Linked DNA regions of Homo sapiens. The protein of the gene in region 4 interacts with the protein of the main gene of each other region in a pairwise test. Each region holds a gene or a part of one and is shown on either strand. Other genes may lie near its edges.

Evidence for each region.
Region 1: the proteins of CFTR (region 4) and DSTN interact in binary tests that used the Homo sapiens proteins (3 or more experiments, as listed by UniProt).
Region 2: the proteins of CFTR (region 4) and WWP2 interact in binary tests that used the Homo sapiens proteins (3 or more experiments, as listed by UniProt).
Region 3: the proteins of CFTR (region 4) and CREB3L1 interact in binary tests that used the Homo sapiens proteins (3 or more experiments, as listed by UniProt).

Annotation. Positions count from the first base shown.
Region 1 is NC_000020.11:17,601,049-17,608,083, forward strand, and holds part of DSTN (destrin), read left to right. Parts: intron 1-3,506; coding exon 3,507-3,583; intron 3,584-5,988; coding exon 5,989-6,098; 3' UTR 6,099-7,035. UniProt on the Homo sapiens protein: Actin-depolymerizing protein. Severs actin filaments (F-actin) and binds to actin monomers (G-actin). Acts in a pH-independent manner.
Region 2 is NC_000016.10:69,926,312-69,933,346, reverse strand, and holds part of WWP2 (NEDD4-like E3 ubiquitin-protein ligase WWP2), read right to left. Parts: intron 3,900-7,035; coding exon 3,818-3,899; intron 3,218-3,817; coding exon 3,089-3,217; intron 2,196-3,088; coding exon 2,120-2,195; intron 1,839-2,119; coding exon 1,767-1,838; intron 1,546-1,766; coding exon 1,457-1,545; intron 267-1,456; exon of another isoform or gene 167-266; intron 1-166. UniProt on the Homo sapiens protein: E3 ubiquitin-protein ligase which accepts ubiquitin from an E2 ubiquitin-conjugating enzyme in the form of a thioester and then directly transfers the ubiquitin to targeted substrates.
Region 3 is NC_000011.10:46,294,644-46,301,678, reverse strand, and holds part of CREB3L1 (cyclic AMP-responsive element-binding protein 3-like protein 1), read right to left. Parts: intron 6,521-7,035; exon of another isoform or gene 6,346-6,520; intron 1,745-6,345; coding exon 1,516-1,744; intron 1-1,515.
Region 4 is NC_000007.14:117,665,025-117,669,200, reverse strand, and holds the end of CFTR (cystic fibrosis transmembrane conductance regulator), read right to left. Parts: intron 3,743-4,176; coding exon 3,637-3,742; intron 2,294-3,636; coding exon 2,093-2,293; 3' UTR 536-2,092; downstream 1-535. UniProt on the Homo sapiens protein: Epithelial ion channel that plays an important role in the regulation of epithelial ion and water transport and fluid homeostasis. Mediates the transport of chloride ions across the cell membrane.

The DNA.
Region 1 (7,035 bases), on a different chromosome or scaffold from region 4:
AGCATGTTAGAAATATTGAGCCTCTGTAAAACTCATTTTGTTAGCACTCGGGAAGACCAGTTCCAGCACCAAAGTAATTTTTATTCAAACTATTTGCAGTTGTTGTCATTTAATTTTTATTTACAGGTTTCATAATGTTACCAGGGCTGATGTTTATGGGACCCAAACTAAATTTTGACTATTTTCTATCTACTTGTTATGTGACTCTCCGTTTTTGTTTTTTTTTTCAATGGGGAAAGGACAGGAGGCATCCTCTGAATGTACTGCTTTTATAGGCTAAAATTTCCTACTACTTTTAACTTTCTTACTTATAAGCCAAAACCCTACTTTTCCAACGAGCCATGCCAGGAACCAGCCTTCTATCTACTCTTTTAAATTACACCCCTTCCTTGTGCCTCTGTGGTCTACTACTTTTGAAGAAATTGGTACCATTCCCTCCCTGCTATAATTTGCTCTACAGTTGCACTGTTTAGTAGTGTAGTCACTAGCCACATGTGGCTATTTAAATTATTTAAAATTAAAAATTCAGTTTGTTAGCTGAATGAATTACCACATTTCAAATGCTCAGTAGCCACATCTGACTAGTGGCCACCTTATTGAGTAGCACAGATACAGAACATTTCCATCATTGCAGAAAACTCTGTTGGGCAGTGTTACTCTTAGATAGTGAAACAGGGCTATAAAGTTATTTTTATGGCCTTTTTCTTGAAATGTTGTTTAGTTATTCTGGTCTTTTCAGGCAAGTCGGTATTTGAGATGAAGCTTTAGAAAAAAGTTACACCTGGATCCCTCATTTATTGAATATTATACTGCATTCCTTGATATGGCCAGGAGTAGAATTCTTTAGTTTCTAAGGGGAGGGAGAAATGGTAACACTACCTGATTTTTTTCTTTTTTTTTTTTTTAGAGGGGCAAGGATTCTCTTGATACTTTGGCCTGAGTCAGGGCAAGGCAGGGAGGGACTTAGCTTTTAGCTATGTGCCATCAATAGCTTGGAGTGTAAAAGGGATATGGGAGTAGGAGATGCAGAGGATTGTGGTTTAAAAAGGAAGATAACTCGAGGTCACACCTCACTTGTATTTCAGTAAGCTTTTACTGCACTTGATTAAACCAAGTTGCTGTGAGGAATGCAAATATGAGGTCAGGGTGCACGTATTCAGGCAGCTTAGAGTCCATTGAAGCTGGTACATAAGACTGAAAATTAACAAGGATTTGAATGAAGGTGCATTTACTGAACTTTATTTCTACTACACGCCAGCTATTGTGCGAGGGCCTGGGAAAACAGCTGTGAATAAAACAGGTTAAGTCCTTCCTCTTCTGGCATTCACAGCTGAGTGGCAGACAGGCCAGCTAATGGTTTAGGCTTTTAAATTGGTCGGTATTTCCTTAATTTGCAGGTATTTTTTCTGCTTTTTATGTATTTTGTAATTATGAAAAGTATGCATTCTTATTTTTTTAAATGTGGAAAATAATAGAAGAAAAGGAAATTTAGTGTTAGTGCAGTGGTTTATTTTGCACTGTTACACTGTTACTTAAGAAAAGGTAGAACCTTATTAAAGGCATTTTCTATAACAAGCTCCGCCCATGGCCCAGGGAGCAGCTCTTAAAGTAGTTTAACAATTTGGTTAGAATAAAAGCAGAACAGCTGATGCTTTTTTATGTTTCTGACCTATTTTCATAACAAAAGTACCCACTCTGCTGGGCGCAGTGACTCATGCCTGTAATCTCAGCACTTTGGGAGGTGGAGGTGGGCAGATCACGAGGTCAAGAGATCGAGACCATCCTGGCCAACCAACATGGTGCAACCCCATCTCTACTAAAATTAACTGGGCATAGTGGCACACGCCTGCAGTTCCAGCTACTCGGGAGGCTGAGGCAGGAGAATCGCTTGAATCTGGGAGGCAGAGGTTGCAGTGAGCTGAGATCACGCCACTGCACTCCAGCCTGGGTGACAGAGCGAGACTCCGCCTCAAAAAAATAAAAAATAAAAAGTACCCACCCTGTAGCTCAAACATCTGCCAGTCCTGAGGTTGTGATGGCTCTGCCTCCTTCCCTGGACCTTAGGATTGGGAGGAATAAGCCTCTGAGAGACAGACTGCCCTTTTTCCCAAGAATGGAATCTCTGCTCACTAGGGTAAGGGGTACACTAGGTGAGGTCCACATGCCAGTGCTCATGGCTGTTGAATGTCCTGGAAATATGGCAGCTAAATGGAATTATTAAATGCTCAGAAGTATTTAGCTATACCGTAATATCTTAATGACCTCCAGTAGGCTCTTGGAAACTACAGCTTTAAGCAAAACAACATACACCAGGTCCTCAAATAACGTCATTTCTTTCAATGTAGTTTTGTTATAACATTGAGAAAAAAAAATACTGGTTTTGGTATATGTCATTTTGTTTTAAGTCACAGGCTCCAAGAACTGATTGACAATGTTAAGTGTGGACTTACTGTACTGCATCTTCTCTGTGATATTTTAGCAGTGTGGCATGGAGGTGGGCCTATGGGTTGGCGTACAGAGGAAAGAAGGACCTCCGTGCAAGCAGTCTGAGTGGGAGGGTTTCTGTCCGTTACTAATCATCCTTATTCTTCAGTGTTGCTGCTGAAGGTGCTGTGACACATATGCTGTGCTTCTAACACGCTTCCCTTCAAGAGGGAGAACGTGCTCCAATGTTATAAATATAAAAAGATAGTAATAATATTGACAGTTAAGACATAATTATTGGTGAGTTGCCATTTAGAAATCTTTAGAATCATGAGATTATACAAGTGGATTTAATATTTTTTTCCAGAGAATTATTGAAACGTGGATGCCCAGATCTGTAATTAAACATGTATTGTTATGTTAGACTAAGAAAACAAGTACCTGTGGGATCAAAACCTGCTATTGGAATAGATGAAGGGACTGGGGAAGTCTAAGAAAAGGACTTTTATTTGTAATTTATTCTTTTTTGTCCTTTTTTTTAAGTTTTTGATTTATTCTTTTTTAGAAAACAATCTGAAGCAAAGGTGCCAAAATATTAGCATTTAATTCTGGGTCACACGTACTTACGGATTATTCTCTGTACTTTTATGTATTTTAAAACTTTTTTCCAACTAGAAAAACTGTCAAAAACCTTGTGTAAATATTAGCCTGAATCCAATCCCTTATTAATAATAATGAAAAATATTCTGAAGAAAAAGAATTGGGTTATACAGTGAAGTACTCAGTGTTGGTTCTTTCATTATGGCGACTGTAATCTGATTTTTAATTGGTGATTGTCTTTTGCCACCAGTGGTTCTCTTCTTTTTTCCCACCCTGGTCAACCTGAGTGATTCTGCATATGCCTATCTGTAGCATTTCCTCTCTGAGCTGCTGGGGAGGTAGAAAAAATGTGCAGTTAAGAAAAAATATCTCAGGAGAGTCTGAGGATTCTCAGCAAATGTTTACACAAGCAAATGTTTAACAAGTTGCAAGTTATACTTTCTCTAAACCACTTTTTTCATTTTTGGCATCTTTCTATCTAGGGCACCAGAACTAGCACCTCTGAAAAGTAAAATGATCTATGCAAGCTCCAAGGATGCAATTAAAAAGAAATTTCAAGGTATGTTCTAGATGACCTCTGAATATGTAGAGGTATGGTGAACACTCAGAATGGGGCAGCACCTTTTCTGAGAAGCACCTTATTTTTTTGCAGAGCTTCGGGCACAAGGGAGAAGTGTTACTTGTTTTGAGAAAAGCAGAAGACTGAATTTGACTTTCCATGTATCTTCTGCTTTGTGCTGGTTGCTCTGGGTCTGCCCAGCCTGTGTTTAATAACTATACCCTTGACATTGTCTATATATATCGTTTATTCAGGCTGGTTTTAAACTAGTTTGAGGTGCTACCAGTTTTCTCATGTAGGAGGTGGAGACTGATTGTTTAACATTGGACATAATAGTAAATTTGCTCTTGCCTTTGAATGTAGTTGTTATAATAAAGTTGCAAAAAGGAAATGTACCTAAATGAGAAAGGATGCTCTTTTCTCCAGCTTTACTGTTGAATGGCATGATTTTAGGTAATTAATTCATCTGTGTCCCAAGGAAAGTGCACCCACTCCTGAGCTGGTCAGTTGTATTTGACTTGCCACTGGGTGATTGGGATCCTGATGAGATGGCCTGGCCAGACTTCAGCCAGGAGAAAATGTTGGTATGATGGAAAGAACGTGCATGGGGCAAGTGCCCAAAGGCCTGCACTGAGGGCGAAGCCTGTCTAACTGCTGTGTGGCCTTGGCCAGAACTGCTTAACCTCCATGGGCCTTGATTCTCTCAGCTGTAGAAGGGGAGACTTGGTCTCATGTGTGAGTTTTAGTTTAAGAGTTTGCCCTGCCACCTTCCTGCCATGGCTGTTTCCAAACAGCTGAGTGAGCCAAGGTCACAAGGGCTTGGCCTGATGTTGATTTTGTTTTGTTTGTTTTACTGTCACTGGTTTTTATATTTTCATGGTAGAACAGGTTTGCCCTAGCCTGTTTTACTTAGTTCGGAAAAAAAAATTCTTGCTTCCTTTCCCGAGCCTTGCTGCTGCATAGTTTATTGCTGGGTCAGGTTCTTCGTGCATTTGGTTTGATGTTTGGCAACCCCCAGAAGTGTGTCACTGGGTTGCTAACTGACACTTTTAAATCCTTTAGCTTCAACACTTTCCCAGCCCAACCAAAAGGTTCACAGTGGATTCCTTATTATCTTTATTCTGCATTGCCTTTCAGTAAAGGGAATTGCTTTGCACACTTGATTTGGTGATACTAAAAGATAGTGGCCGGCTGGGTGTGGTGGCTCATGCCTGTAATCCCAGCACTTTGGGAGGCTAAGACAGGTGGATCACCTGAGGTCAGGAGTTCGAGACCAGCCTGACCAACATGGTGAAACCCTGTCTCTACTAAAAATACAAAAAAAAAATTAGCCGGGCGTGGTGGCACATGCCTGTAATCCCAGCTACTTGGGAGGCTGAAGCAGGAAGAATGCTTGAACCCAAGAGGCAGAGGTTGCAGTGAGCTGAGATCGCACCATTGCACTCCAGCCAGGGCAATAAGAGCAAAACTCTGTCTCAAAAAAAAAAAAAAGATAGTGACCATGCTGCCTTTTTTCTAATGAAAGCATCCACTGTCTTTCTCAGATCAGTCCTGAGTAGTTCAAAAGCTGACCTGCTGTGCTTTCAGCAGCTTGAGAAATAATGGTCTTTAAATGATGGGAATAACCATGCAGCTATTTAAAAGACAGTGGCCATTTACAGAGAAGCTACTGTATGTAATCCATAATTGAGCTCGTTTTTGCATTGTGGTAGTGTAATTGTTCTAAGAAAGCAATCAGTAACATATTTCACATAGTTTTCATTGTGATCGATTTCATAAATGTGTAGTGTAATACCATTGAAGAGCCAGCTGTTTACTTTTCAATACAGTTGACAAAATCAACTGTGCAATCAAAAATCATTTGTATTTTTATGTTTTAAAAACCAAGAAAATTTTCTTACTAGACCTGCCTTTTAGCTTTTTAGCAAAGTACAACATATCTTTAGAAAAGTGTATGTCACAAATTATTGTAGAATGTGTTGAATTTTTCAGAGTGAACATAATGGTTATTTCTTAATCTAATGACCAGCACCCCAGAAGCCTCCCTGGTGCTGTTCCCTTCAATTCATAGCACTTCTGCCTGCCCCTTCCTCCTCAAAGTAGCCAGCACCCTGGCTTCTAACAGCGTAAGTTAGCGTGGGCTGATTTTGTATGCTATACCTATATATATAATAGAATATATGCATTTTAAATCTGGATTCTTTCAGTGAATGCTGTTTGTGAGGCCCATCTATCTTGATGCATGTAGTTACAATTATTTTTTCTCGTTACTGTGTAGTATTCCGTGTTTGTATATACCCCAGTTTATCCAGATTAGAACTGGTCTTTTAAAAGTTTGGTTATCTTAGAGAAAGAGGTAAACTGCTGCCATAATTGTAAATAGAAGTGTTGTTTTTTCTCTCTAGGCATAAAACATGAATGTCAAGCAAATGGACCAGAAGATCTCAATCGGGCTTGTATTGCTGAAAAGTTAGGTGGATCCTTAATTGTAGCCTTTGAAGGATGCCCTGTGTAGATTATTCAGTGCCACAAATTGAAAGCTTCCATGTTTAATGTTATCCTCTTGCTATATAAATAAAGCAAATATATTTAGGCCAGGGTCTCACTGAGGGGGAGCTGTCTTGTCATCTTTTAGAGTAAACTATTCTATAAACATATGCAAACAGCCCTAAATAAATCTAAAGTCTAAAGTTTTATTGATGTGAAATTAAATTCTTATTGGCCAAATGCCTGTTTTGATGAGTTGATTTATAAAGATTTTTGTTAAGCTCAGGATTTTAAATTACACAGTTCACAAACAGTAAAGGCCATGTGAAGAGAATTATTACATCTTTATTAACCTCAGCATTTACTTTGTTTCTTTTGCTTAGGAAATTGCTCATAATCTGGTTATAATTTTGGTCCAAATTCTTTATTCTTCCTTGAGCTAAGCAGAATAATGGAATATAATATGTCTTCATAATATAACAACACTAATACACTAATAGTAAGATTAAGTTAGGCAGTCTTCTACCAAATGTGTAATGGAGATTGCCTCAAAATTGTGTCCACATAATCCACGCTCATCTTGCAAAGCGCTATTTCAGGCACATCATTGGAATACAGGAAGTAGCCCTGCACCTGCCAGTGAGCTCGCCATTCACTGATTGGAAGAGTGACCTGGCATCTTGGAAATCATTGTGTGTCTTCAGGAGAATGTGCAGTGTCTTGTAACAACTAATTATAATGCAAATTAGGGCTACATTGTAATCTGCTTTGTTAATGAAAATGATAAAACAGAATATTGACAAGCTAGGACACCTGTGGTATCTTTAATTGTATCTCCTTCAGAAGTTTGCTTCTTATGGTATAATAAAGTATGGAAGAATATTGAGTATATGTTTACTCTGGGCCTGGGAGAACTTAACTTTCTAGAGCAGTTTGTTGACTTGTGTGCAATGGGGAGAGGTACC
Region 2 (7,035 bases), on a different chromosome or scaffold from region 4:
ACGCATTCATCTGAACCAACACCCGTGCCCTGGGTGCGAGCCTCAGGCATGAATTCAGAGTCCTTTTGGGCTTGAGCTAAACCAGCAAGGGGATGTCCCAAGGGGGCCAGTCCCCAGCTGCTGGGCTGTTTGTGGCTGGGCAGACGAGGAGTCCGTCGACGCAGAGGGTGCCCCGGTATCCTGTCCGTGGTTCTACCCTGTGGTAGAACAGCATGACGTAACCTACCATAGGGTAAAACCACTGGCAGGACACAGAGAGAGACACACACAGGGCGCGGCCACACCAGAAGCCCACCAAGCAGAGCCTGGAGAGGAGGTCACCACGGAAAAAAGGAACATCCATCCACGGGGCCAGCGCAGAAGGCAACGCCACCACCGAACAGAGGACCAGAAGCAAGTTAACCCAACACCAAGCGGGAAGACATGCCCACACCGGGAGAGGTCTCGAGCGGAGAGGTCGCTGCGGGCCACAGCGCTCTCTCTCTCTGCCGGGGCCCTTCTGCCCTGCTGTCCAAGGCAGCATTTCCCAGAGGGCCTGTTAACTTTTATGGGTGGACCAGGGTGAAGGCAAGACAATGCTTTGGACTCTTTTTAGGGTGACATAAGCCGTTACAGTTTTACTGACCCCAGGCATGTGACATGCAGTTGAGCCCTGCTCAAGGCCCTGTGGATCGTGACACAGCTTATCCACACGGGGACACCTGACTTCACCTGCCCTGGCTGCCTTAAGAGGAGGGGATCCCAGGGTCAACTCTAATGGATGACCACATGGCCCCTATATTCAACTGCCCAGATGCTGCTGGCCTGGTTGTTAAAGTACAGAAACATGACACATTGGTAGATAACAGAGCCATTGTACTGAGCTCTCGCCCCTCCCAGGAGTCCTCCGTCGCCTCATGACCCAGTAACTAAAGGCTTAATGTCCAGCCCAGTGGGGCACCCCAGGCCCCTGTTCCAGGCCCAATGGACTGGCCACATGGATTCACGTATTTTGTTTTTTTGTTTGTTTTGTTTTTGAGATGGAGTTTCGCTCTTGTTGCCCAGGATGGAGTGCAATGGCACGATCTCGGCTCACTGCAACCTCCTGCCTCCCAGGTTCAAGCGATTCTCCCGCCTCAGCCTCCCCAGGAGCTGGGATTACAGGCATGCACCACCACGCCCAGCTAATTGTGTATTTTTAATAGAGACGGGGTTTCTCCATGTTGGTCAGGCTGGTCTCGAACCCCCGACCTCAGGTGATCCACCTGCCTCAGCCTCCCAAAGTGCTGGGATTATAGGCGTGAGCCACCGCGCCTGGCGGGTTCACGTATTTTGAATGCCACACTGTGCCCATTCCTGAAGATGCATGAGAGCTTTGGGAGGGAATGTGAGCAGGGGGCAGGCAGCTTTCTGGCCATTGATGCTGTAGCCTGGGGAAGCGGGGTACAGGGCAGCCTTCCGGGGCACTCAAGCTCACCTGGCGATGCCCCCATAGTCCAGGCCCTCCTCGCCACGCATGATGATGTAGAGCCGGCGGCGCAGGTCATAGGGTTTCATGTTCATGATCTGGGAAGACAGAGCATCGGGCCAGCCTGCCACTCTCCCTTCCACAGCAGGCAGGGGCGGGAGGGACAGGGGACTCTAAGGCCCAATATCCAGCAGACACAGTCACCAAGACTCACGCCCTGGAAAGTCTGCAGTGTGGGTTTAACAGGCCACGCGATAGGAGATGGGGTGCTGGGAGGAGGGCGTCGGCCTGCCACTGGTTTCGGGCACCATGATCTAACCTGTTGGAAGGAATCTTCGAAAAGCGTCTGCCTGGAAACGCTGATCTTCACGTGGCTAGGTAGGGCATTTGACTGAAAAAAAAAAAAGAAAAGAACTTTAAATCGAGCCTCAAGTGGTCATCTGTTCTCCTGTCTGTATGAACAGGCATTCCCCAGCCTGCTGGGCCAGGAGGCAATAGCATGTGCCCTAGGAATGAAAACTAGCTTCCTAGAGACAGCCAGCTCCGGGTTAGACAAGTGTCTTGCGCCCGCCTAAGACACAAACATTCCGATACCTGCTGCTGTGCCGGGAACTCACACTGAAATAACTCAATAACCCCAACTGCCACGGGAGCCCCAGTACCAGAACTCACATGGCAGAGGAAACGGAACTGGTGATACTTCCACCGAAAACTGCGGTCATAAGCACCAGGGGAACCTTGCTTCGTCCTAGGAAGAGCAAAGATGTTCAGGGGTTCATGCGATTTCTCAGAAAATGAACAATTTGTCTTTGTCAGCCCTAAGGAAAGCTGGTGCTATGTTAATTTAAAGATTAGTAATGTAAGGTGAGGAAGTGACTGTCATTAAGATCCTTGAAGAATAAAAAAGAAAATCTAGAAATAAAGCCAGACTTCTTGCTTTTAGAGAAATAACTCTAGTGTCATTCGGAATAAACAGGATAGTCCCTTCCTCCCCATCCCATCTTATTTATTTGTTTGTTCGTTTTCTAGAGACGGGGTCTTGCTCTGTCACCCAGGCTGCAGTGCAGTGGTGTGATCATGGCTCACTGCGGCCTCGAATTCCTGGTCTTAAGCGATCCTCCCGCTTTAGCTTTCCAAGTAGCTAGGACTACAGGAGTGTGCTACCACACCGAGCTAATTTTAAATGTATTATTATTTTTTAGAAACAGGGACTCACTCTGTCACCTGAGCTGGAGTGCAGTGGTGCCATCATAGCTCACTGCAGCCTCAAACTCCTGAGCTCAAGGGATCCTCCCACCTCAGCCTCCTATGTAGCTGGGACTACAGGCATGCACCACCACATCCAGCTAATTTTTAATTTTTTTTTGTAGAGATGGGGTCTTGCCATTTTTCTCAGCCTGGTTAATCTTTTTTATTGTTGTGGAGACACGGTCTCGCTATGTTGTCCAGGCTGGTCTCAAACTCCTGGGCTCAAGCTATCCTCCCATCCCCTTTAATATGACATCAACATTGGCCACTAGAGGGCAGTAAGGGCAGTAGAACGCACCACAGGGGCCACCCAAAGTGGGCCTCCCAGAGCCAGAACAAGGACAGCCTGGGCCTCGGCTCCTGACACTGCTGCTACCTGCACAAAGTCCTTACCCCGACTCAAACCCCGGGCGAGGATCCTTAAAGGTGGTGGTGCGGGTATTGTGGTCCACAAAGTATCGCACCCCCTCGCTGGTGTATTTCATCTCCCATCCTGGGGGCAGAGCTGGTTCCTGGATCATCCTGGAAACACGGGAAGAAAAGGGTGAAGGGCTGGCCCCACCTTCTGGACCTTGGTGGTTGGAGGCTGGGTCCTCAAAGTGTGGCTTTGTCTCTGCAGAGCCCATGAGGGACTTTGAGGACATGCACCCAAGAAGCATGACCCAAGTCGTGAGAACAGTTCTGCAGCACGGAGAGGTCACTTATTATCTCATGGCCAAAAACCCAGCCCTGCATGGATGGCATTGGACTGAGCAGCCACCAGCAATCCTGAGGCACCCTGTGCCCCAGCACAGCTTCACTTGGGGGTGTTGGGAGACCAGGATGCCCTCAACCTTTTTGCAATCCAATTATCAGCAGCCAGCACAATCAGTATGGAGACCAGCAACACCCGCCAGCCGGGCCGCCCTCCATCCACCAGGAAGGTCTATTTAAGAAACCCCTTTTAAGCTCTCATCAGGCCAACAGTGTATCTGTACGGTGAGAGTCTCAAGACACTTGTGTGTGGCTAAAGGTCCCTGACATCAGCCCTCTGGGACGATGCAGTCCAAAGCCACCTGCCCAGTGCTGGAGCTGCACAGAGACCCAGCCCAGCCCGGCCCCCCTCTCAGCCCAAGTCCTTACCCCTGGGTCCGGGGATCCTCCCACTGGGTCGTGCGAGTGTTATGGTTCACGTAATACACCCGTCCATTGTCCTGTCTCTTCTCTGCCACATGAGAAGAAAGAAAGAACATCAGATTCAAACACGGAGAGCCGGTGTCCTTTCCCTGAGGTTCCCACCTCCTGGGTGCTGGGTCTGAGTTTATCTCCCTGTTGTCAGCCTGTTAGAGAAGAACCAGCCAAAGCCAAGCTCACTCACACTTGTCACTGGGAAAGGGACAAAGAGGGTCCTTCCTTGTTGGTGGTGGGGGGCGGGGGTGACATACTTCCAACTCGAGATGAAGCACTTCTTTGGTTGATTGGTCGGAGGGAGGGGGTGGTGTGGCCACCCAGAGGGAGCAGCACAGCTCAAACCAGAGGCATAATTGCTCCCAGCTGTGTGCAGCATGGAAGCCGGGCAGTCCCTAACCCGCCAGGCCCCCCACCCAAGTCCCTCACAGCTGATCCCTGGTCCTGGGACCCTCTGCACTGCATGCAGCTAACCTGGGCGCCTCTGTCCTACAGGGCGTGGTCCTTATGGAGTGGCTGCATTTCCCTCGCACCTCTCTGATCAGTGCTCTGCACCCTGCGCCCCTGTACCCTCCAAGTTCTCCCTCTTCTCCCACTTACAGGCTAAGTCTTGTTCTAAAACTCTCATACCCTGGCACGCCTCTTTCTTGCTTATAAGCAAATAAATGATATCTGGGGCTGAGGACACTTACACTGCCCAGCCTCTTCTTAGACTTGTATCTTTTTTTTCTTTTTTATATAAAGACAGGGTCTCGCTATGTTGTCCTGGCTGGTCTCGAACTCCTGGCCTCAAGTGATCCTCCCGCCTCAGCCTCCCAAAGTACTGGGATTACAGGCAATAAGCCACCGTGCCTGGCCTGCCTATCCTGTTCTTAGGCCTAAGTATGTGCTTTGAGACAGGGGAATGTTCATGGAGTGGGGCTGGGGAACAAATACACTTTTCCTCTGCTCTGAACAATCTCTGTTCTCTTGCCCTTTACTGATATACTGATAAGGGCTCTGGGGTCCCCAAGGGAGGAGTCTGTGCTCCAGGGGCAGACCCAACCCTAGCTGGTGATTCTGGACCTTGAGAGGGATTGAAAGGGATAACCTCTCAGCTCCAGGTAGACAGGAGAAAAAAAAAACAAAAAACTAGGGGGTAAAGCTCTTGGCTCAAAAGAGGTCACCTTTCCCAGGAAGTTCCTGAGCCTTCAAATCTGCTTCTCTCCTGAAAACAAATGATGCTAATGGCTCTCCTTTTACAAGACAGGGCAGCATTAAAGAAACAAAAATAATCAGTTCCAGAAGCTACAGGGAACCAGAAAGCTGAAAAAGGAGCAGAACAGGGAAGTGCAACAACCCCCTCCTGACTCCAAGACTCGAGCTGCAGTGCTCCCAACACCAGACCAAGGCCTCAGTCTCCCTCCCACTCTCTGCCTTACCTGGTATCTATGACTCGACTGAAATTTTACAAACAGACATTATTTGTCAATCATACCTCAGTAAAGCTGGAAAAACAAATAAATAAAATAAAAATAAAGACAGGCTGGGCACGGTGGATCACGCCTGTAATCCCAGCACTTTGGGAGGCTGAGGCAGGAGGATCGCTCGAGCCCAGGAGTTCGAGACCAGCCTGGGCAACACAGCGAGACTTCATCTCTATTTTGTAAATAAAAAATAAATAAAAGAAAGCCAAAGGAAAGAAAGAACAGGAGGTGCCCAGAGCTGTTACAGAGCTACCACCACCTCAGAACACACAGAAGGAAGGCTTCCCAAGAGGTTTCCAGGGGAGGGGCTGCTCCCAGCCCCGAAGCTACTGCTTTGAACTAGATCCTCCACGTCTGCCCTGTTAAGGGCCAAAGCCAAGGCTAACCACAGGGCCAGGGGGATCTGTCCAGCGGGCTTGAGGCCTGTGTCGTCATTTCTGGCACTGCTGCTGTGTGGAGGCCTCCCAAGGCCGGCTGGCTGCCTCGCGGCATTCAGTTTCAGTTGGGGGCTGGGAAAGACCCCAGGAACACCTGGCTCGACCTCATTTTAGGACAAAGGGACTCAGACATATTCAGCCACAGGCCCAGGGTCAGGGCTGCCGAGGGCAGATGTGGATCTGAACCCGAGGTGTCCTGAGTCCCACAGCAGTGTGTGGGGAAGATGCGGGGTCTCTCCTGGGGCAGCAGAGAGGGACACCAGCAGGCTGGGTTAGCAAGCTGCCGATCACTCTCACTTGGTCTGGCTGTTCTTCCTGTTCATTCTCGGTGAGCCCTGGGGAGCCGGCCCCAGCCACAGCCCTGGGGCAGCCAACACAGATCCCCAAGGATCTGAGATTCAGAAGGAGCCCTGGCCTTTAGCCAGAATGTTCTTCCTCTTAATTCTAGACTATGACAGTTTTGTGGGTTTTTTTCTGATCGTTCATTAACAGTATCGACTCTGACCACGGCTCCTCCATTTCTATCTCAAATATTTCCACACTTAGCATTCGAGAGCTGTTTTCAAGTCTCCATCAGCTGTGCTTACCTGGTGACCATCACTCAGCAGAACTGGCATGAAAACCCACTTGACTGGGCTACATCACCTGCCTCTACAGAGCCTGAAATACACTAGAAGTCCCCGGCTTCTATGCCACTGGCTACTAAACAGCAGTACAGATTCTTGTTTAATCTGACGCATTTTCCCCTGCCTACTGACGACGCAGGGTCTTCAGAGTTTTACTCTCTCGCATTGGAGTTGCTGCCAATCTCTGAGATACTAATGATCTTTCTTTGGTCCAGGGAGCCATGTGGGGCAGCTATCTGCGTAAGGGATCCCCAAGCTGAACATCAACAAATGTGTGGAAGCTTCACTAAATGATCTCTCCAATCAGAAGGACCAGAAGGCCCTTCTGGCACACTGGACTGCAGTGCTCATTGACTAAGTGGTACCCTGCAGGTATAACAGGGTTGACACAACCTCTTAAATAACTACCCGAGAGCAGAAGTGTCTGCATCGAGAAGATCCAGCTCCAAACCTGCATGTTTCCAGGCATCAGATGCCCATCCTATCACTGCCAACTTCCCAGGATGCACCTCTCCATCTTTGTTGTCGAGCGCACCCCCTCCCAGTTTCACACCATCTGTCAACACCACCAAACCAACGTTTACCGTCTTCTGCTGGCCTAACCAATAAATGAAACCCAACACATGCTGGTTCCCGCAAAAACT
Region 3 (7,035 bases), on a different chromosome or scaffold from region 4:
TCTATTTTTTTTTTTTGGGACGGAGTCTCACTCTGTTGCCCAGGCTGGATTGCAATGGCGCAATCTTGGCTCACTGCAGCCTCCGCCTCCCAGGTTCAAGTGATTCTCCTGCCTCAGCCTTCCAAGTACCTGGGATGACAGGCAGCATGTAATGGAGGCACCATGTGATGGAGGGCATCATGCTGGGCTAATTGTTGTATTTTTGTAGAGACGGGGTTTTATCACGTTCGCCAGGCTGGTCTTCGTCTCCTCACCTCAGGTGATCCACCCGCATCAGCCTCCCAGAGTGCTGGGATTACAGGCATGAGCAACTGCACCCAGCCAGTTATTATTATTTTTGAGATGGAGTCCCACTCTGTTGCCCAGGTTGGAATGCAGTGGTGCGGTCTCAGCTCACTACACCTTCTCCACCCGGGTTCAAGCAGTTCTTGTGCCTCAGTCTCCTAAGTAGCTGGGACTACAGGAGCGCACCACCACGCCTGGCTAATTTTTGTATTTTTTTTTTTTTTGAGACGGAGTTTCGCTCTTGTCACCCAGGCTGGAGTGCAATGGCTCACGGCAACCTCCGCCTGCTGGGTTCAAGCGATTCTCCTGCCTTAGCCTCCCGAGTAGCTGGGATTACAGGCACCCACCACCGCGCCCAGCTAGTTGGTTTTTTTTTTTTTTTTTTTTTTGAGATGGAGTCTCGCTCTGTCGCCCAGGCTGGAGTGCAGTGGCGCAATCTTGGCTCACTGCAAGCTCCGCCTCCCGGGTTCACGCCATTCTCCTGCCTCAGCTTCCCAAGTAGCTGGGACTACAGGCGCCCGCCACCACCCCCGGGTAATTTTTAATATTTTTAGTAGAGACGGGGTTTCACTGTGTTAGCCAGGATGGTCTCGATCTCCTGACCTAGTGATCCGCCTGCCTCGGCCTCCCAGAGTGCTGGGATTACAGGCGTGAGCCACCGCGCCCGGCCCTGTATTTTTTTTTTAGTAGAGACGGGGTTTCACCATATGTTGGCCAGGCTGGTCTCGAACTCCTGACCTCGGGTGATCCACCTGCCTCGGCCTCCCAATGTGCAGGGATTACAAGCGTGAGCCACCACACCCGGCCCCACAGTTATTATTGAATTACCCCCACTGTCTCCTCTAAGTCAGCGGTTTGCAAATCTGAGTGTGCATCAGAATCACCTGGAAGGCTGGGCCCTACCCACAGGGTTGTGATTCAGCAGGTTGGGGGTGGAACCCGAGAATCTGCATGTCTAACAGATTCCCAGGTGATGCTGCTGGTCTGGGAACCACACTTTGTAAACCACTGACTTAAGTCAGCAAAAAACCCTTTTGAGAAGTGCTCCTCTGGCTTTGAGCTGAGGGAGAACAGAAAGGCAGGGAGGAGCACCTCCTAAGGGGTTTGTGGTGGCTCCTCTTGGAGCCTCTGGGAGTCTCAGGCTGCAGGCACACTCTCTTGTCACCCCAGAGCTTCCTCCCTCCTGGGCCTCCTGGGCCTGTGCTGTCCCCAGGTTCTTCCACCTCTTACCTTGGGTGGTGTCCTCCATCTTGATGGGCACAAGGGGGCTCTGGGGCGCTGAGTCGCCGCTCAGGGAGTAGCTGTGCTCCGCCTGGATGCCTGGCGTAGGGGAGTCCAGTTCCATGTCCAATAGAGGGCTCTTCTCATCCAGCACAGGGTCATCAAAGAAGCTGCTGAACAGGTCATTGGAGAAGTCCTCCATGTTCTCCGTAAAGTGGTCCAGGTGCTCAGGAAAGTGCTAGGGAAGGAAGAGGTGAGGGGAAGAGGGAATTCAGCTTTGCTTGGGAAGGGGGTGCAGGTGCTACTGTGGTGGTGCAGCACCCCACCATGGCCACCACTGTCCCTGCAACCTCCCATTACTGTGCCCATTCCCATTAATATCAGCAACATCACCAATCTCCCCAGTACCAACATTGCAACACCAACTCTCATCATTTCCATCATGACCGTTACCACTGTCATCCCATTCTCTCTACCACCAGCTCCACGCTCACCATTGTTATCTGCAAGGGTGAGCTCAGGATGGGATCAAAAACTCCCTGGACCAGGCAACAGGACACTGGGCTCTGTGACCTTTGTCAAATCACTTAAACTGCGTGAGTCAGTTTCTCAGTCCTTCTTACTTCCTTCATAGGCTGATGTGAAGACAAAGTAAAAGAACAACCGTGTGTCTACGCCAACAAGTTTGTTTTCCAAAGGCAATATTAGTGAATTTTGTATGATCTTTTGCTGGAATGTGGGAAGGGAGTGATGCAGGGCAGTGGGATTCTTGAGGCCTCCAGTCTCCTCAGCAGCACAGTGTCCATCTGTCCTCAAGACTTCGGGGTCTCTCTCCTTTCCCAAGCCATCCTTTATATGGAGAGGTTAGGCTCCGGAGCCCTACTATTTAGGTTCGAATGGTGGCCTCCATCCTTCTAGCTATGATTCAGTGCTGTTTAAACTGTGGGTGGTGACTCATTAATGGGTTGTGAAATCAATTTAGTGGGTCACGACCAGAATTTTAAGTAAAAATAAAACAGAAAAAAAAAAGTAGAAAATATCAGAGTGCACAGCACACAGTGGAGTTAAATACCTGGCAATTAAAAAAAATCACAGTTGTGTGTGTGAACGCACATGTGTGTACTTGGTAATGATGTAAAATATATTTCTTAGAAACAAAAAAGTCTGAAAAATCTTGGTCTCCATGATCTTGGGAAGGTCAATTAACCTCTCTGTTTCATTTCGTCCTCTGTACAGCTGGTAATATTAATAGTTCCTACCTTCCAAGATTGTCATGAGGATTAAACAAGTTAATCCACGTACAGGCCTTATAACAGTCCCTGGCACATAGTAATTACTCAATAAACGTTGCCTCTTATTGTTAGTAAAGCACTCCAGTGGCTGACATATGGTAGGTTCTTGTACATTATTTTTCTCTCTCTAAAGAATTATAAATGTGTAAAGAAATGTTTCTTTCTCTCTCTTTCTGTCTTGCTTGTGAGAGTCTCACTCTGTCACCCAGGCTGGAGTGCAGTGGCATGATTTTGGCTCACTGCAACCTCCATCTCCCGGGTTCAAGTGATTTGCATGCCTCAGCCTCCCAAGCAGCCGGGACTACAGGTGCGCACCACCACGCCCAGCTAATTTTTTGTATTTTCAGTAAAGATGGGGTTTCACCATGTTGGCTAGGCTGGTCTCAAACTCCTGGCCTCAAGTGATCTGCCCGCCTCGGCCTTCCAAAGTGCTGGGATTACAGGTGTAGGCCACCGTGCCTGTCCAATAAATGTTTCTATTGTTTGTTCCTTATTTATTGAACGAATGAATTTGCTGGTGGGTCAGAAGAGATGGGGGATGGGGGGCTGCCTTAGGTCCTGAAGCCCTGCCTGCTGAGTGGTTAAAGGCTTGTGCCAGGGGATTCCTTCAAGGTCTGGAGTTGTTGGCCCTTTCTGGCCTGGAATATTGGGAGCCTGTCCCAACCTGGAAGGTAATGAGCAGAGAAGCCTTCTGTATGAGCATAAGGTTCAGGGCCACATGAGTCTGTCTGCATGGAGTAGGAGATGAACACGAGCTCTGGAGTCACATAGACGTGCTTTTGACTCCTAGCTCCACCACTTGCTAAGTTGCTTAACTTCCCCGTGCCTCAGTTTCCTTATCCGTAAGGGGAAAATAATAGTTCCTACCTCATAGTGTTGCCATGAGGATCTAAAATTTTGTTAGATTAGTACTCACCTCATAGGAGTATGAGGGTAAAATGAGTAAATACTGTACATATAAAACACAGAACAGTGCCTGCTACAGAGTGAATGCTCGATCATTGTTAGTTATCGTCATCATGAAAACTGCAGCCCCTAAACTCTGTCCCCGAGCTGAGCTTGGAACCAATGGTGGGAGTTGTGGGGGGAATGTTTGGCCTTTCCCTCCAAACAAAGCCTGATGAGATAATCCAGGACAAAATGAGCTCAGAAGCCCCATTGGCAGGGGTACTCTCCCACTTCCCAGTTTGCCAGCAATCAATCATCATCCTACATTTCTGTTGTGCTTTTAACCCAAAGTGCTCTCCTATGCATTATTTCATTTAATCTTCACAATTATCCAATGAGACAAGACAAATGCATATTGGCATTTGACAGAGAGAGAAACTGAGGCCAAGGGCGCTAATGCAGCAGGGAGGTGCCCACCATCCCTCACTGTCCAGTCTTTTACAACTGCAGCAGACCCTCCCCGGTCCGGTAATTGCCCTGAAGCAGGGTTTGCACCCTGTTCACCTGCTGCCTTCCAGCACCTGGCTCATGATACTGGTGGAGGGACAGGGCCTTAGAACCCAGATGGCAATGCCATCAGCATACCAATTGTCCATCAATACCTGGAGTGAGGCAGTACCAGGAGGTCAGAGCTGAATGAGTTTCTAAGAATCACTGTGATCCCAGACAGAGGCCATTTACAGGGTATAACCACCCCCCAACCACCCAGCCAGCCACAGCCAGGGCCGCGCTGGCTACACCCTCCGCAGAGCCCGGGCCTGCCGGCTGGGGGCGCTTCCGCCAGTTCTCTCCCTTAGGGTCTCTCAAAGGCCTGGTGTTGGGCCCAGTGGGAGGGGGCTGTGAGCAGAGGGAGCCGGTGAGTCAGCCGCTAAGGTATTTCTCCAGCAGCTGCTTCTCAGGCGATAAGGGTTTGCCAAGCCCCTTCCTGGGGCCTGGGAGAGGAAAGATGCTTCCTCGGATCTGGGCTGGACTCCCTGAAGGCCTTGGCTCAGGCAGATGACCCAGGTTCTTCCCAGAGACCCTTTTAGGGTGCCCACAGGAAACTGCTTAGAGAGCTCAGCTGGCCCCATTGTGTGAGCAGTCCCCACCCCACCTGCTAGAAACAGCAGCCAAAACCCAGCAGGATGGAGCTTCCAGAGCAACGGGAGCCAAGTGGAAGGGGAGGGCGGCCAAGGGGCAGGCGGGGTGGGGGTGGAGGACACTCCGACGCCCAGGTCCTCTTTGCGCCGGGCTTCTTCAGGTGCTGGGTGGACGGTGGGCGCGTCCCATCATCCCTAGGCCCACCTCGCCCTCCTGGGAGCACTGCCATCAGGGACTCCCCTAGAGCGCTCTGCGGCCCTAGTTCCGTCTGATGCCTGGCCTCTCATGGCGGCTAAGGTAGGGTTGGTTTCTATCACCAAGTTAGAGGCAGAAGGGACGGGAGAAAGCTCCCCGACGGTCCCCTGCCCCTCGTTCCCCCCCTCCTATTTCTTAGTAGAGAAAACTCCAGTCCAGAGAGGGAAACACAGCTACCCAGGACGCACAGTGAGCGAGCTGGTGATGTCCGGGGCTGCAAAGTGAGCTGGTGAAGTCCAGGGCTGCCCTGGCGTGTGCGGGACCTTCTGGTCCTCTCACTCCTTCCACCGCATCCACTTGGCCCCATCCCTGGAAAGCCCATTTTGGAGACCTCAGACCTCCTCCGCTCCAGCACGCCCCCTTGTCCCCTCTACCCCCAACCACACCCAGCCCTCCCTCCACTTCACACACAAAAGTTCAGGTTTAGATTGTCCGATGGAAATTGGGGAGCAAGAGCAAGGGGTCGGCGGCCAGGAGTTCACGAACTTCAGGGGAGCCATGTGTCAACGCTCTGAGGGCGACAGGGTTCTGCAGGGGGTGAGCGTCCTACAGGGGTGCCTTTCCAGGCAACGGGGGTGGGAAGCCGGAGAAGGACATATTATGATTTGTTTCCCTCCTCGTTAAAGACTTTTTCCTATAGTCGTGCCAATATAAGCTCCTTCTCGGCTGTCACGCGCAGCCGGCGCCGGCTTCCCTCCCTTGGAGGAGAGGTTCCCGAGCTCTCCTGCTTGCAGACCTGCGTACCCCTCTTCTCGGCTGCACCCTCTCTTGGAGCCTGGCCTCAGCCGCCCGCCCTTTAAATTTTAGAGAAGGATCCGGGTGCCGCCGTCCTGGAGCGGCCCACAAAGGGTTAACCCGGGAACACCCGGGGCCGCCCCTCACCGGAATCCGGCCTGCTCACTGGTGGGAGCCGCAGAGCTCCTGGCCAATGGCGGGAGGCTGCGAGCAGCAGCCGGTGGCGGCGTGGAGGGCACCGGAGGAGTGCAGGGCTCGCGCGGAGGAGGGTCCCGGCCTGCGCCGACGGCCCGCGGCTGAGGGAGCGCAGGGTGCACTGGCTCGGGCCTGCATGGGACCCCTTCTGCGTCTGGGGCCGAGGCAGAAATGGCCTGGCCGTCTCACGGTGTCCTAAACCCCTCATCAGTAGCGCGGCCCCGCCCCCACCCCCGCAGGGAGAAGTGGAGACCGAGGGTCTCCCCGACGACCCCGACTCAAAGGGCGAGCCGGGCCTTAAATCCCCTTGCAGCTCCATCTCGAATCGTCCTACCGTGGGGCGCTTTGGTGGCTGTCTCTGGTGGCGGCAGAGGGGACTCTCCCGGGGCAGTAATGGTACCAGCTCTAGCCTTGTTTTACCCCTCCCTAAATTCCTTCCCCAAGGTCAGTGCAGAGACAGGGTAAAGCTCTGGGGGCGCAGCTGCCTGCTGGGGTCGGTGTAGGAGAATGGTTTCCCTGACCAGAAGCAGCCTCAGCGCGCCCTCTTCCCTCAGGTCCCTGGCTCCTTGGCGCCTGCACCCCCACTCCTAACTTCTGCCCCTCCCCCGGCCCAGGCTGGTTCAGTCTGTGCTTGGGGAAAGGAGGGAGGAGACCAGAGCGGGTCCAGGCTGAGCTGTGGGATAAGGGGTGGGGGGGAATCCTGAGCCCGGACATTCCTTCCGAGAGAGTGAGAGCTAGGGAGAGATGGGAGGAGAGGCCTCTCACATTTCCCCCTTTCTTTCCCCCCGCAGGCTGGGGCCCACAGACCCCCCCACACCCCAACACACACTGACCCATGCATTCCCGGACGGTTACTTGCCTCGTGGTCACTAGAAAATTGTCCCCATTTCAAGCTGAAGGGCCTTCAGTCTGAGTCACTGCTGTGCCTAGGGGGCGGGGAGTGGTGAGAGCAGGGAGAGGAGGTGGGCCCCTTGAGTCCCCGGTTGTCAGCAGACCCCCCTGTCCTTAAGCATTGCCATCCAGT
Region 4 (4,176 bases):
ACTACTCTATAATGAATATTATTCAACCTTAAGAAGGAAGAAAATTGACCCATGTTGCAACATGGATGAGGCTTGAAGACATTATGCTAGATGAAATAAGCACAAAAATACAAATACTGTATGATCCCACTCCTAGGTCCTTCGAGTAGTCAAAATCAGAGACAGAAAGTAAAATGGTGGTTGCCAGGCATTAGAGGAAAGATAAATGCGGGATTATTGACTAACGGGTAAAAAGAGTTTCAGTTTTGCAAGAAAAAAATTCTGTGGAAGGATGATGGTGATATTTGCACAACCATGTGAATGTACCTAATGACACTGAACTGAACTTTAAAATGGTTAAAATGGAAAATTTTATGTTATGTATATTTTACCATAGTTTAAACAGATAACTAAAAATGTGTGTTCTAATTCATGTGAATTCTCAAAAGAGGCTATATCTAAAAGACAGATTCGTGTTTCATGTTCCATGAAGCTTAGAAATTGGAGTGAGAGACTGATGAAACATGACAAGTGAACGCATCTGAAAACAACAAAGTTTCACACAAATGTATGGATTTTATTGACAAGTGATATTTTCTTACAGTAATAAATATAATGCAGTCTTCTTAAGAGTCAGTTTGGAGTTGAGAAGGCAGTGTACCCTTGATGGAAACAGTCAGACTGGTGGTACCATCTTCTTCAGAACTGCATCTAAGAGGCTGTGCTGGCTGGGAATCATACAGCTGTGGGCAACAACTGCATCAGCCCCAAGGCTTCCCTCCAGACCAAAAGGTGATTCATGGCCCCTGGTTAATATCACCCTAGGTTCTCCCCTGTCCCAGTTTTAACATAATATTTCATAGAAATACTAGTGCCATAAAAAGTCAATATTTCAAATATAAAAATTATTTTATACAAATGTAATTCATAATCATTCTTTTAAAATACAGCATTGTTATATATGTTTGAAACATTATTAAAATAAATATTTCCTAGAGAAAAAATTTTGCTTCACAAAATTATAAAACAGAAGCATATAAAACTAATTCATGATTGGTGCTTCTTCAGTGTGTCTCTCATTCTCTCTTAGTGTAGACAGCATGAAGTACATACATCTAGCCTGAAAACATACCACCATCAACCTATACATCTAAATGCTTGGACTTCATGTGTGTCTACCCACAGTGCCCATGGCCTATCTACTTACACACCCTCTACCTGGAGCTTCTGTGGAAAGAAGGGCTGTCCTGTGACAATTTGCACTAACATACTTTTCCAGCTAAACTCTAGTTCAAAGGTCTGTGAGCTTGTCACTTTCTGGAGTTGGGAAAAGGCATATCAACTTCTTCATCAAGGGAACCATCCTGTCCCCTGTGAAAGATTATAACAGCCCTTTCCCAGGTAAGGGATGTATTGTGATTATCTGAAATATTGAGATTTTTGGTAGACCTGGACAATACTAACCCTGATTTCCAGGATCTGGAAGTTCTCTTTCCTGACTGCTCACTAGATGTTGAATGGGGCATATTTTGATGTGCAGTCTTGTGGTTCCTGTGGTATTCTAATACTTGCTTGGAAATGAGATAGTTGGAATGCTTAGCAAACAATATAGTTGTGTTTCTAAACATCATGGGGAGAGGAGAGAAAAAGGAATACAAGCTTATATAAACCGCTGAAGTTTCCAGTTATCATTACTTAATCATAACCCTAAGAAGTATGATTTCAGTTCTTCTCCAACACTACAAATTAACGAGTTTCACTAGACAATAAGCTGATCAACTAGGCTGATTGACATTTAGAGCTGCCTTTCCAATTACTAGCACATGGCAAGGGTTTTCAGGAAAATCTGGCTTGCAAAACACAAGTGGTAAATCTTCAAGGATTTGAAGTACCTTTCACACAATTTGACTATTGCCAGGAAGCCATTTATCAAGACCCATATCAGTGTCCTCAATTCCCCTTACCAAATGTTTCTTTTTTAAAAAAAAACTTAATTCATCCTTGTTTTCTGAGGCAGAGGTAACTGTTCCACGAGCTCCAATTCCATGAGGTGACTGTCCCACGAGCTCCAATTCCATGAGCAAATGTCCCATGTCAACATTTATGCTGCTCTCTAAAGCCTTGTATCTTGCACCTCTTCTTCTGTCTCCTCTTTCAGAGCAGCAATCTGGGGCTTAGACTTGCACTTGCTTGAGTTCCGGTGGGGAAAGAGCTTCACCCTGTCGGAGGGGCTGATGGCTTGCCGGAAGAGGCTCCTCTCGTTCAGCAGTTTCTGGATGGAATCGTACTGCCGCACTTTGTTCTCTTCTATGACCTAGGGAAATGGCTGTTAGTGAGATCTGGGACAGAAGGCAGGTCAGACCAGAGCAGGGACAGAAACTGGCACAGGCTCAAAGGAAAATAAAAGTCAAAGAATGCAATGTCCAGAGCCTTGCATTTTGAACAATCAGGTATGTCACATTTAACTGCTGTGTCCTTTTGCTCTAAGGAGGTTCTACCATCTGTGAAATTAGTTGTGATTTTCTACTCAGCAGCTGGAAGATTCTTCAGGGAGGTTTAGTAGAACTGAAGTTGCTTTGAAAACAAAATATTAGGTCCCTTATAAATTACCTAGAAAATGAGCGTAAGTCTACAGCACCATAAAGAGTTGAGCCTCTTCCACAGTGATCTGAAGCTTAAGAATTCCAAATTGGTCAGGATGTGCCTGAGTTTAATACACCTCCTTGGCTTGTTCAGGTTGAGCAAATCCAAGATCAGACAATAGAGGACTTTACTTAGATTCTTGAACTTGTCCATGGCAGGGCAAGAGGTTGTGAGTCTGCCCCCCTAATTTGTTACTTCAAGCTTAGTGATAATCATGGTAATAACAAGCCTTCAGTAAGGAAACCATTTACCTCCAGGAGGCTCAAAAGCCTGAACAGAAATGACGTGATACATCATCCTCAGAACTTCCTTGTGACTAAACCATAGGGAATTTGTAAACATCACTTGAAAGAAGCTGTGACAGTTTTGTTTTGTTTTAATAAAGACAGATGGGGCCTCACTATGTTGCCTGGGCTGGTCTTGAATTCCTGGCCTCAAGTAATCCCCCCACCTCAGCCTCCCAAAGTATTGGGATTACAGATGTAAGCCACTGTGCCTGGCCATGTGACAGTTTTTTTAAGAACAGTGAGAAGGTGGTTGAGAAAGGTACTACCTGAACCCAAATCATGGCTAGAAAAATGAAATGTGCCTCTCAACTTTGTCATTAATACCATAAATCAGACTGTAAGACAACTAGGCCTGTCCCAGACCACATCCATGGGACATTTAGTTATTGAAAGAATCACAGGGACCTTTTTTAAAATCTTAAACAGTAGAGTATTTTGTATGACTTGGTCCCCAAATAAAGGGCTCAAAAAGTATATATATCCTATTTATAAACATAACTTAGTAATATGCTGCCATTTTAGATTTACTATATTTCAACCTCACCACATGGCTCAGATCAAAGTGAAAAACTTGTGCAGCTATTTTGAGTAAAGCTGGATGGCTGTATGATACATATTTTTGAAAAGAACTTGTACATTGTTGCAATTTGCAGGAACTATCACATGTGAGATTGTTATCAAGAATTACAAGGGCAATGAGATCTTAAGTAAAGTTATAAAGACTCACCAAAAATTGTTGGCATTCCAGCATTGCTTCTATCCTGTGTTCACAGAGAATTACTGTGCAATCAGCAAATGCTTGTTTTAGAGTTCTTCTAATTATTTGGTATGTTCTAGAAAAGAAAGAAAATACCACACATAATATCACAGAACAGTAATGATCTGTATTTACCTTGATAATATGTCTATTGTTCTATTATCTCTTTAAATTACTTATTTCTTTAAGTTCTTTTCACATAATGTTGATATAGCGTTAGCCACAATCAGCTTTTCAACCATGGGGTAGACTCTAAGTATCCATAAATAAACAGGACAAATATTTCAAAGAAACTTTAATAAATGAGTACATTTTTCATTATGTAGAATCACCAGTACTTCTTTATTTGGGGCTATAAACATGCTTATGGTATAAATGGGATACAAAGGCAAATCATAAGGATCAGATTAGGCCCATGTATTTAAAAGCTTCATCATGTGTTGACAAGGGGGAAGAGTTTGTATGAAACTAAAAACTATCTTCGGAAGAAAACACAAGACTCTTAGCAAG